Linked DNA regions of Homo sapiens: region 2 is linked to region 1. The links come from fine-mapping of genetic effects on gene expression. A gene starts in region 1. The other region holds a variant in brackets. All regions are shown on one strand. Distances are between the middles of the regions.

The links. PIP is the estimated chance that this variant, and not a neighbour inherited with it, causes the effect. A credible set is the group of variants that fine-mapping cannot tell apart.
Region 2: its variant is the best candidate, but not a certain one, in a credible set for the expression of PTER in testis (GTEx, PIP 0.84).

What each region holds. Positions count from the first base shown.
Region 1 is chr10:16,433,875-16,439,251 of GRCh38, reverse strand. It overlaps PTER (phosphotriesterase related), which reads right to left and starts at 2,242. Exons shown (of 5, transcript NM_001261836.2): 1 at 2,205-2,242. RefSeq lists enhancers at 1,648-1,697, 1,718-1,897 and a silencer at 2,318-2,367.
Region 2 is chr10:16,477,221-16,482,597 of GRCh38, reverse strand. All of the region lies in intron 1 of PTER (phosphotriesterase related), which reads right to left. Among named protein-coding and RNA genes, the nearest start is that of C1QL3, 42 kb to the left of the region's middle. The variant G/C (reference allele first, on the strand shown) is at 2,698.

The DNA.
Region 1 (5,377 bases):
CCAGAAAAGCCACTGTCCTGATTTTCCTCCTGTCTCACTAGCCACCTTCTGGCTGGATACTCCGCTACTGACCTCCAAAATACACATTTATTGATCTTTGATTGAATAAACAGACCCTTCCTGACTACCTTGTAATTTCAGCAGCAAATATGACCCAAAACTGGAAGACCCTCTCAATCTATTCTGGTTTGAGGGCTGCCCAATTAAAAAGGAAAAAAACTGGCCCAAAATATCATTAAATGGTAAAATCAGGATCTTATCCTCATAAATCCATAGATTATTACATCCACTAGCGACCTAGAGACCACTTACCTTTTTTTTTTTTTTTTTTGAGACAGAGTCTTGCTCTGACACCCAGGCTGGAGTGCAGTGGTGTGATCTCAGCTCACAGCCGCCTCTGCCTCCCAGGTTCAAGCAATTCTCGTGCCTCAGCCTCTCCAGTAGCTGGGATTACAGGCATGCCCACCACCATGCCCAGCTAATTTTTTGAAGAAAAGAGGTTTCACATGTTGGCCAGGCTGGTCTCGAACTCCTGGCCTCAAGTGATCCACCTGCCTCAGCCTCCCAAAGTGCCGGGATTACAGGTGTGAGCCACCGCGCCTGGCCTGAGACCACTCACCTTAATGTGTCTAGAAAACAGGCAGGCCAGGCGCAGTGGCTCACGCCTGTAATCCTAGCACTTTGGGAGGCCGAGGCAGCCAGATCATTTGAGCCCAGGAGTTTGACACCAACCTGGACAAAATGGCAAAACCCCGTCTCTACCAAAAATACAAAAAAAAAAACAAAAAACAGAAAATAAAAACTAGCCGGGCGTGGTGGTGTGCACCTGTGGGAGACTGAGCTGGGAGGATCACTTGAACGGGGGAAGTGAAGGTTGCAGTGAGCTGTGATAGCACCACTGCACTCCAGCTTTGGTGAAATAATGAGACCTAGTCTTAAAAAGCAAGAGGCCGGGCGCGGTGGCTTACGCCTGTAATCCCAGCACTTTAGGAGGCCGAGGTGGGTGAATCACAAGGTCAGGAGTTCGAGATCAGCCTGGCCAGTATGGTGAAACCCCGTCTCTACTAAAAATACAAAAATTAGCTGTGTGTGGTGGAGCGCGCCTGTAGTCCCAGCCACTCAGAAGGCTGAGGCAAGAGAATCGCTTGATCCCGGGAGGCGGAGGTTGCAGTGAGCCGAGATCGCACCACTGCACTCCAGCCTGGGCAAGGGCGAGACTCTGTCTTTAAAAAAAGCAAAAGAAAACCAACTTGTAGAAAGTCACTGAGCTGGAACCAGAACTAGAATAGGGCTCTACTCTTTCTGGGTCCAAAGTTCTTTAAATCAGCAACCCCTCTTACTGCCTATGTAAGGGTATACCTTTAGTTCCTGTTGACTTGGGATGTACAAAGAATGAGGTAGTCTAAGAGAGTAACAGCACACTGGCTGTGGAGTCAGAAAGACTCCACCTCTAAACTTTGTTTCCATCTCTAAACTTTCCAGCAGTGTGGCCTAATTTTTCTGTACCTTAGCTTTGTCGTTATCACTAGAATCCTTCACAGGGCTGCAGAGTGGATTAAGCAAGAGTGCACAGGACTCAGACATATGACCGCTGGTAATTGGCTTTTATAAACTGTCAAAAAATATAGACCTGTAATGCCAGCACTTTGGGAGGCCGAGGCAGCAGACTGATTGAGCCCAGGAGTTCGAAACCAGCCTGGGCAACATGGCGAGACACTCTCTACAAAAAATACAAAAATAACCGGACATGGTGGCACGTGCCTGTAGTCGCAGCTACTCAGGAAGCTCAGGAGGCTGAGGCAGGAAGTTCGCTTGAGCTCAGGAGGTCGAGGCTGCAGTGAGCTGTGATCGCGCCAAATGCACTCTAGCCTGGGAAGCAGAGCCAGACCCTGAATCTAAAAAAAAAAAAAAAAAAAAGCTTATTAAAGGAGGCTTAGCACAGCTACCCGATGACGCCCCCGGGCATTGCTGTCGAGCCACAGGGAGCTGGCGCCACACGGGACTGGCGCTCTTTGCAACGTCCCTCAAGCACTTAAGGAGAGGCGGCAGGGCCCAAGCGCAGCGGCTAGAAAATCCTTCCTTCCGGCAGGACCCTCGCGTGGAGCTCTGCAGCGAACCCTGGCCGCGCGGCCTCCGCCGTCGGGCCCCACTCTTCCTACTGGGCCCACAGTTCCGGCTCCTGCTCTGACTCCAAGAAGCCTTACCTCGGGTACAACGCGCTGCCTTCTCCCTGGGAACTTCCGGCAGGCCAACTTCCCTGGCCTTTTTAGTCTCCCCTGTGCCCTCCCACTTCGCCCTCTGGTTCTCTCCCCGCCCCTGGCCCGAGGTCACGCCCTCACCGAGTCCTAGGACACGCCCCGTGGGTCCTTGCCAAGCCCTACCTCTTCGTAGGACACGCCCTTCAAACCCTTGCCACGCCCCACCCTGGTCCGGGGCCGTTCCCCGCGTTTTTGCCTGGCCACACCCTCCTGCAGGCGCTGTCTGACTGTCGGTAGTTTGGCTGAATGAAAAAAATTCGGGGCTAGATCCCCAAACGGAAAGAAACTGTTGCATTTTCCCCAGATCCCAGTTCTCCATAGAACAGTCTGGAACAAGGGAGCATTCCGTAGCTCTTTTGGTTTTCCCCAAGAATAAATCGGAGGTGGTGCTCTGGCAATTTGATGTCACAGTGGGTTCTGGATCCTCATGCTGCATACGGAGAACTTTGGTTTTTGTGTTCCCACTTGTCACTGTTTCCTGCCCCGGTGCCGCGTTTCCTTCTCTTTAGAATTAGAGTGCCGTGCTAGAGCACTTGAACTGGCCCTGGTACTTGCTGTGACTGAAATAAACTTAGTATGTGTGAGTCTGTTGGCAAAACATGATGCTTGGAGCAGCTGCCACAGTAAAGAGTCATACCTTTAGGTATTGTAGGGGGCCAAGGGCAAACCTCTCCTTCGTCCTCTGAAAGTTTGCTGAAAATCAACTGACAAAAGACAGTTTCACAGTAGAAAAGGCATACAAATATACTAGATCGTAACTTTATGTGATCCGGGAGCCTTCAGAATGAAAACCCAAAGATGCAGGGGAAACGGTCCATTTTTTCGCTTAGGTTCAATAAAGTATGGACCGCCATGTATTCAGCTGGTGCAAAAGTAATTGCGGTTTTTAATGGCAAAAACCGCAATTACTTCTGCACCAACCTAAGAGATACTACGATGGCATAAAAAGGGTCTGAGCTAATGCCAATAGACTAAGTGAGCAAGCCCTGTCTGTTTAGATTCTTTTTGGCTTTTCTGTGCAGTGTTCCTTCCTTCTGGGTATAGAGCAGGATCCTTTCTGGAATGGGGGTCTTATGACCTACAGTCAAACAAAGCAGGGCAGAGAATTTCTTTACCGCCAGTTTTGACACAGAAAGGCAGGGGACACGCAGAGTCAAACTTTTAGGTTTTATGCTTGGCTTTGGGGATGAGGGGTTCTGGCTTCTGTGAATCACCTTGGGGAAGAGGGATTCCAGTTTCTAGAATGAGGGGCCAGAGGCAGGAGGACATGAGGTTAGAGAGAGCTGCTTCTAAGGCCTTCATTTTGGGGTATCATTTTCTGAACCCCAACCATATTACACTGTCATCAATTATTATTATTATTATTTTGAAATGGCTCTGTTGCCCAGGATGGATTTCAGTGGTGCAGTCATAGCTCACTGCAGCCTTGAACTCCTGGGCTCAAGGGATCCTCCTGCCTCAGCCTCCTGAGCAGCTGGGACTACAGGTGTGCACCACCACACTCAGCTAATATTTGTAATTTTTGTAGAGATGGAGGTCTCGCTATGATGCCCAGCCTGGTCTCAAACTCCTAAGCTCAAAGGATCCTCCCACCTCAGCCTCCCAAAGTGTTAGGACTACATGCATAAGCCACAGCACAAGGCCTAGTCAATTAATTTTATCCTGAATTCTGAGAAAAAAGAGAATAGGTATGCAGATGGGCAGAAGCTACAGATGTCATTTCAAAGGAAAGTAGAGTTTTAATAATAATATTAATAGATGATGTTTATCGGGGCCAACTCTACCAGGTTTTGTAATGGGTGTATGTTATTTTGTTTAAGATTTTGAGCAACCTGCATGTGGCAGGAGCTATTTCCCTCCAATTACAGACAAGAAAACAAACTTAGGCAAGCACCTTGTTCAAGGATAGGACTAGGGACCCAGATTAGTTGATATCAGTCACTACACTTGCCTTCTTAGTAAAGAATGGGGAATTTTTTTGGTTTGTTTGTTTGTTTGTTTTTGAGACAGAGTCTTGCTCTGTTGCCCAGGCTGGAGTGCAGTGGTGCAATCTCACCTCACTGCAGCCTCCACCTCCTGGTTTCAAGGGATTCTCCTGCCTCAGCCTCCTGAGTAGCTGGGATTACAGGCACGCCCCACCATGCTCAGCTAATTTTGTGTAATTTTAGTAGACATGAGGTTTTGCCATGCTGGCCAGGTTGGTCTCGAACTCCTGACCTCAACTGATCCACCTGCCTTGACCTCCCAAAGTGCTGGGATTACAGGCGTGAGCCACCGCACCAGGAGAGAATGGGGTGCTTTGATAGGAGATTAATAGAAATAAATTAATTCATTTAAATCAGAAAAAAAGGAGGAGAAAAGGATATACAGGTCTCGTTCTCTGTTTTTTGTTTTTTAAGGGTAAAAGTACAAGAAGTCATTTAGAAAAGGGGTTGGTTGGTAAGGGACAGTCAGGGAGAAGATACTGAGGAAAAAATTGGTTCTTAAGGAGGGTGGCTGGGTAAATCCTAGAAACAGAAAAGGGATAAAAATAGGGCCCAAGAGTAGGAAAGACAAGAATAACTGTAGGGGTTAAGAACTGCAGAGGCATGAGTGCTGGGACAGTTGGATATTAGTAGCAATGACGGGCTCACACTGAGATTCTGTAATGAGGAGATGGATCCAGGGAGGCTTCTGGAGTGATTTCAGTGCTGGCTCCCACTTTGTGTGTGCTACAAGCATGGAGCCATATAAATGTGTACCCGACAGTGGGTGGTAAGGAGAGGCTCGAAAGTCCATTATTTATAATGTTACGTATTTTAGTAGTCTATGCTGCTAGATGTTAAATGATACATGAGGTCCTTGTTAAAAAATGACTTCAGGCCAGGCGCAGTGGCTCACGCCTGTAGTCCCACCACTTTGGGAGGCCAAGGTGGGCAGATCACTTGAGGCCAGGAATTGGAGACCAGCCTGGCCAACATGGTAAAACCCCATCTCTACTAAAAATACAAAAATTAGCCGGGTGTGGTGGTGCATGCCCGTAGTCCCAGCCACTCAGGAGGCTGAGGCATGAGAATTGCTTGAACCTGGGAGGTGGAGATTGCAGTGAGCTGAGATCATGCCAGTGCACTTCAACCTAG
Region 2 (5,377 bases), 43 kb before region 1:
TTCCCCCATATCCCTTGAAAGCCTTCTTTGACTTCCATTTTTGTCATCTGTAAATTAAAATAACGAAGCACATTTCATAGACTGTCGTAAAAATAAATTAGATACCACAGGTAAAAATACCTGTAGATGCATTTGGCACGCAGACCATATTCAACAAATAGTAGCTTTGTTTTGCGAATTCTAGGAACTATTCACGTATATCCTAGATTATTTCTTTTCAGAGAAAGTGGCTGATGAGAGGGGAGATGATTTGGGGGAACAAAGGGGAAAATTTGTGAAGGGTATAGTACACACGTAAGACAAGGTGAAAACAACATCAGAGGTCAGAGGGTGACAGAATTGTAGGCCAATTTATAGCAAGCCACTGCAATTATCTGGAACTCAGGTGTTTGCGATATATTGGCTTATAAGGCATAAATGATGGATTTAGACTTTTGGACAGAACTTAGGACTTGTGGCTAACATGGCCATTGATTTTGTTTGATAGTGCCTTTCTGGAAGCCAAACTTCTATCAGCTAGGCAATTCAAATGGTGGCTAAGAGAAAAGCAGGCAGTGTCTCTTCAGAGAATCACCACACAGCTGCCAGGCACTATACAGGGCAATATTTTCCAATGATGATGGATAGGAATTTACTGTTCAGTGTCTTATTCCTTGCTACTGAGAGCAAGGAGTGTGTAGTTCATGCCTTCCGTTGATGAAATCACAGTACCATTAATAATAGATGCAAGCTTCCATATGGGTTAATTTGCCGTTTCTTTCCTTCTGGCTGACCATCTTACAGACGTGTTCCAGAGAGTCACAGAGGGGCAGAAACTGAGCTAAATTGATAAAATGCTACCACTTTTGCTAGAAAAGTACCAAACTGCATATTCAATTGATGCATATTTGAAAGAGCAATGTTGGTACGTTTCAAGCTCACAAGCTGTGAGTCTTTCTGAAAAAAAAATCACTTAAGAAATGTCATCCCTTCTGGGAGATTCCTCTAATGCTCTCAGGCAGAACTGGCTGGCACTTCCTATGATCACACACAATGTAACCTCCACTCAAAGGATAAGAAACGATTAAAGAACAAACTGTAGCCAACATTGCTCTAAGCTGGAATGTCTTTGAGTGGGGTGGAGTGTGTATCTAGAATACACGCTTCCTGTGCAGGGAGGGAGCCCTTTTCCCTCTGCATTCAGCTTGGAGGTTGCTCTCTTCTCAACATACAGGCAAGAGGTTATTCATGGCCTTCCCCCATAGAGAAGAGAGTTCACAGAACAAGGAAGAAGGTAAGGAACGATGAGAGCAGCTATACCCAATGGTGCAAACAGGACTGGTTACCAACAAACAAAGCAGGCTTCTGGCATTTTCCAGAGTATGCCTGAGAGGCTTAAGCATCACTCACATACACCGGCACAGAAGCTAGTGAGAAAGTGGGTAGCCAGAGCTACAAACACATGGGTCAAAAGTTCTGTTGCACTTCAAATGTGAAATTTGAACAATCTGAGGACTGAGGATAGACTGCAATTACTATTACAGCCTAGCCAAGGGGAACAACATTTCTAATTCTGATGCATCTAGAACTGAAAAAGCACAGAGGGTTTAAAGACAAAAAATAAAAGGGATAAGAGAAGAGAATCAGAGGACAGTCCTCCAGCACAGCTGAAAGCCAGAAACGATAAATAGGATTTGTCTTATTTAAAATACGCATGTTTAAAATATGTGTATTCTAAAACCATATGCATAAATCAACTTCTACAAAATACTTAGACAATTCACCTAATTGTTGAAGATTTGGTGTGCAGGACGGTAGTTTGGGGGCAATTTTAGTTTAGTTTCACTGAGAGTTCCTCACAGCTATTTCACCCTGGCCATTATACTTAAGATGATTCCGTCTATGTAGATTGAATATATTTTTCAGTGGCATTTTGAATTGCAGAGGGTAGGACTTTCCAGGACTCTATTTTACCTGTGAATGAGGAGAGCTTCTCTTAACTGAAATACACTGTCCTTATTTCATAAACATAGGCTCTTCTCCCACCCCGGACTCTGTTATACCCAGCCCTTGACCTGGTTGAAGGTACTCGTCTAACAATTTTAAATGCAATGGTCAAATTAGGTCAGGCACAGTGGCTCACACCTGTAATCCCAACACTTTGGGAGGTTGAGGCAGGCAGATCACTTAAGGCCAGGAGTTCGAGACCAGCCTGGCCAGCATGATGAAACCCTGTCTCTATAAAAAATACAAAAATTAGCTGGGCCTGGTGGCACATGTCTGTCATCACTCGGGAGGCTACTCGGGAGGCTGAGGCAGGAGAATTGCTTGAACCTGGGAGGTGGAGGGTGCAGTGAGTCAAGATTGCGCCACTGCACTCTAGCCTGGACAACAGAGCGAGACTCTATCTCAAAAAAAAAAAAAATGCTATAGTCAAATTACAAAACTGAGTTTTGGTGGATCAGTTTTCAGTTGACTTTCCCAACTCCTCCCCCAACCATGAAAGGTCTAATTCTTATCATACATCCCTTGTTTCATTCTACTCATAGTATTAGGTTGGTGCAAATGTAATCACGGTCTTTGCCATGACCGTGATTACATTTGCACCAACCTAATACTATGAGTAAAATGAAGTGATGGTAAAAACCAGAATTATTTTTGCACCAACCTAATAGTTTGGTGGCTCTGAAGAAACCCTAACTGACAAAAAAACGGGAA[G/C]GCATCTCAGGGTTTTTTGCAGACAATATGAAGTGAAGAGCCTGGCAGCCGTGTACGAATGGATGAAGGGAGGGGGCCCGTTGTACCTGCAGGGAGCCCCATAGGATGTCGCTATTATCCAGAAAAAATCAGGTAGTGTCTTGTCTGAGATGACACCAGTGTAGATGGCAAGAAACCAGAAGCAGTAAGAGGCAGAGCAGATGGAACTTTCTAACTGGACTTGCTGGTACTATAAAAGTATCCTCCAAATAAATGGACTTCTAAGAAAAAAGTGCTGTCTGGCCCAAATAGATCAGCACTTCTATTTTTTGAAGTGTTACATCACAGAGCGCGGCTGCACTCTAGAAACACTGCACTTAACACTGACATTTGATTTGTCACAAAAATATTTTTTAAATGCATCCTTTTTTTTTTTAAAGCTTGTTTGAATACTTCCATTGTGCATACAGGTTCAGACCTGCAATATATCTTCTTTGAAGCAGCCTGGGCCTGGACACTGACCAACGGTGACACCAGGAGTCCCTCCTTGGACACAGTCATCATGCTTCTACTCTCTCAGCTATTTATGGTGTAATGGCCCTACTGCATGTGCATTTATAACTTTTAATATTAAACACTGTCAAAAGAATCAGTAACCATGCCTGAATGAAAAGAAAGAAATCCCACCACTTAAGGATACAGAGCAATAATGGGACCCAGCAAGTTCTTTAAACTGTGACATAAATAAAGCAAAACTGCTCAGAGACACAAATGAGCAGCTTGTCGTTGGAGGAAAATGTTGGGTTTCATTCCCAAGCTTTCCTTTTTTTTTTTCAAATTGACTAAGAATGTAAGAAGAAAACCTGAGGAAATGTGCAAATTCTAAACAATTACGAGGACTATGGCAGTGACGAACCCAGGAAGTGACAGTGCTGGGAAAAGGCCTTTGCAGACAGGTCAGCCTGGGAAAGGTCTCCTCCTCTGGGTCAGCTCAGGCTTTTGCCATCCTGCATTCCTTGATGTGAGGTGTTCATCTTAAACTGGTAAGTAAATCCATTGAAGCCATTTGAAAACCCAGAAAACACATCAGACTCCTTGAATAAAAAAAATCGGCTTGTGGCTTCATTAACTCTTCAGTTTAACTTGGGCCAGTCAACCTCAAGTCACCAGGGTTGAGCAGATGGCCTTTGTGTAGACTGTGGTCTACAAACTTGTAACTGGTACCAGTGGCTTCCCAAATTTCTCTGTTTAGTGGCCAACTGAAAACATTTTTTTTTTTTTTAAATGGGGCTGGGCACGGTGGCTCAAGCCTGTAATCCCAGCACTTTGGGAGGCTGAGGCAGGCAAATCACCTGAGGTCAGGTGTTCGAGACTAGCCTGGCCAACATAGTAAAACCCCGTCTCCACTAAAAATACAAAAATTAGTCAGCTGTGGTGGCAGGCACCTGTAATACCAGCTACTCAGAAGCCTGAGGCAGGATAATCGCTTGAACCCGGGAGGCGGAGGTTGCAGTGAGCCAAAATCGTGCCATTGCACTCCAGCCTGGGCAACAAGAGCAACACTCCAACTCCAAAAAAAAAAAAAACGGAAACGAGGGAGGAAAAGGGAGAGGGAGGAAGAAAACAGTATTTCAACCCAGATCGAAGTGCAACATTACTCACTATAGTAACATCCTAGAGTTGGGACAAGTGCAATATTATTGTCAAGACACTGTCGGAATAACTGACCTTTAAATTTTACTTAATTTGAAAAACGAGATCTCATCTCTGCCCTTTTCATTCTCAGAAGGTTCCACACTCAATGCCTTGAGAATGTTTGATGTAAAATTCTTGATTTTACTAGCAACATATATTCCTGAGAGTGAAACATACACCAAGTTATTTGAATACAATGGTTATCACCTGCTTTTCTTCATGAAGAACTCTCCACGTTGAAGTCTGTCCTCTGCTTTTTCTACAGGGGATTTTCTGTCCCATGAAACCCTAGTCATAGGTTGCCTCCCAGAAACAGTGATACTTTGAGCCAGCTGCACAACTGGTCTTTAGCTGTATTTGATCAGTAAAGCACTTAAAATTTGTATTACTTTTAAGTCCTGGCAAACTACAGACAAATGTTTTAAACATGTAAAATATCTATATTCCTCTCATAGTTTCATCTGGAAGGCTATTCTTGAGGTGGTGTGGTCTAGTTGGTAAAATGATGGGTTCAGAGGTAAGAATCCATGGCTCTTCACTAAATAGCTGTGTGGGTTTGGGCAACTTGGTTAACCACTCCACACCTGTTTTTCCCATCTGTGAAATGAAGGGGTTGACCAGATAACTTCCAGATGGCATCCATGCATCAGTGATTCCTTTAGCTTGAAATGGATATTACTGACCACCTATAGATCACTAACAAACAATGAAAGCTATACTTGCACAATGGATTTTTAAATGTATATTTTAGGCTGGGCACAGTAGCTCACGCCTGTAGTCCCAGCACTTTGGAAGGCCGAGGTGGGTGAATCATTTGAGGTCAGGAGTTCAATACTAGCCTGGCCAACATGGTGAAACCCCATCTCTAAAAAAAAAATAAAATAAAATGTGTATTTTACATGCATGTGCAGACAGACAGACATCCATCTATCTATCTATCTATCTATCTATCTATCTATCTATCTATCGAAAGACAGAATGAATTTCCAGTTCACATCCTTCAAAG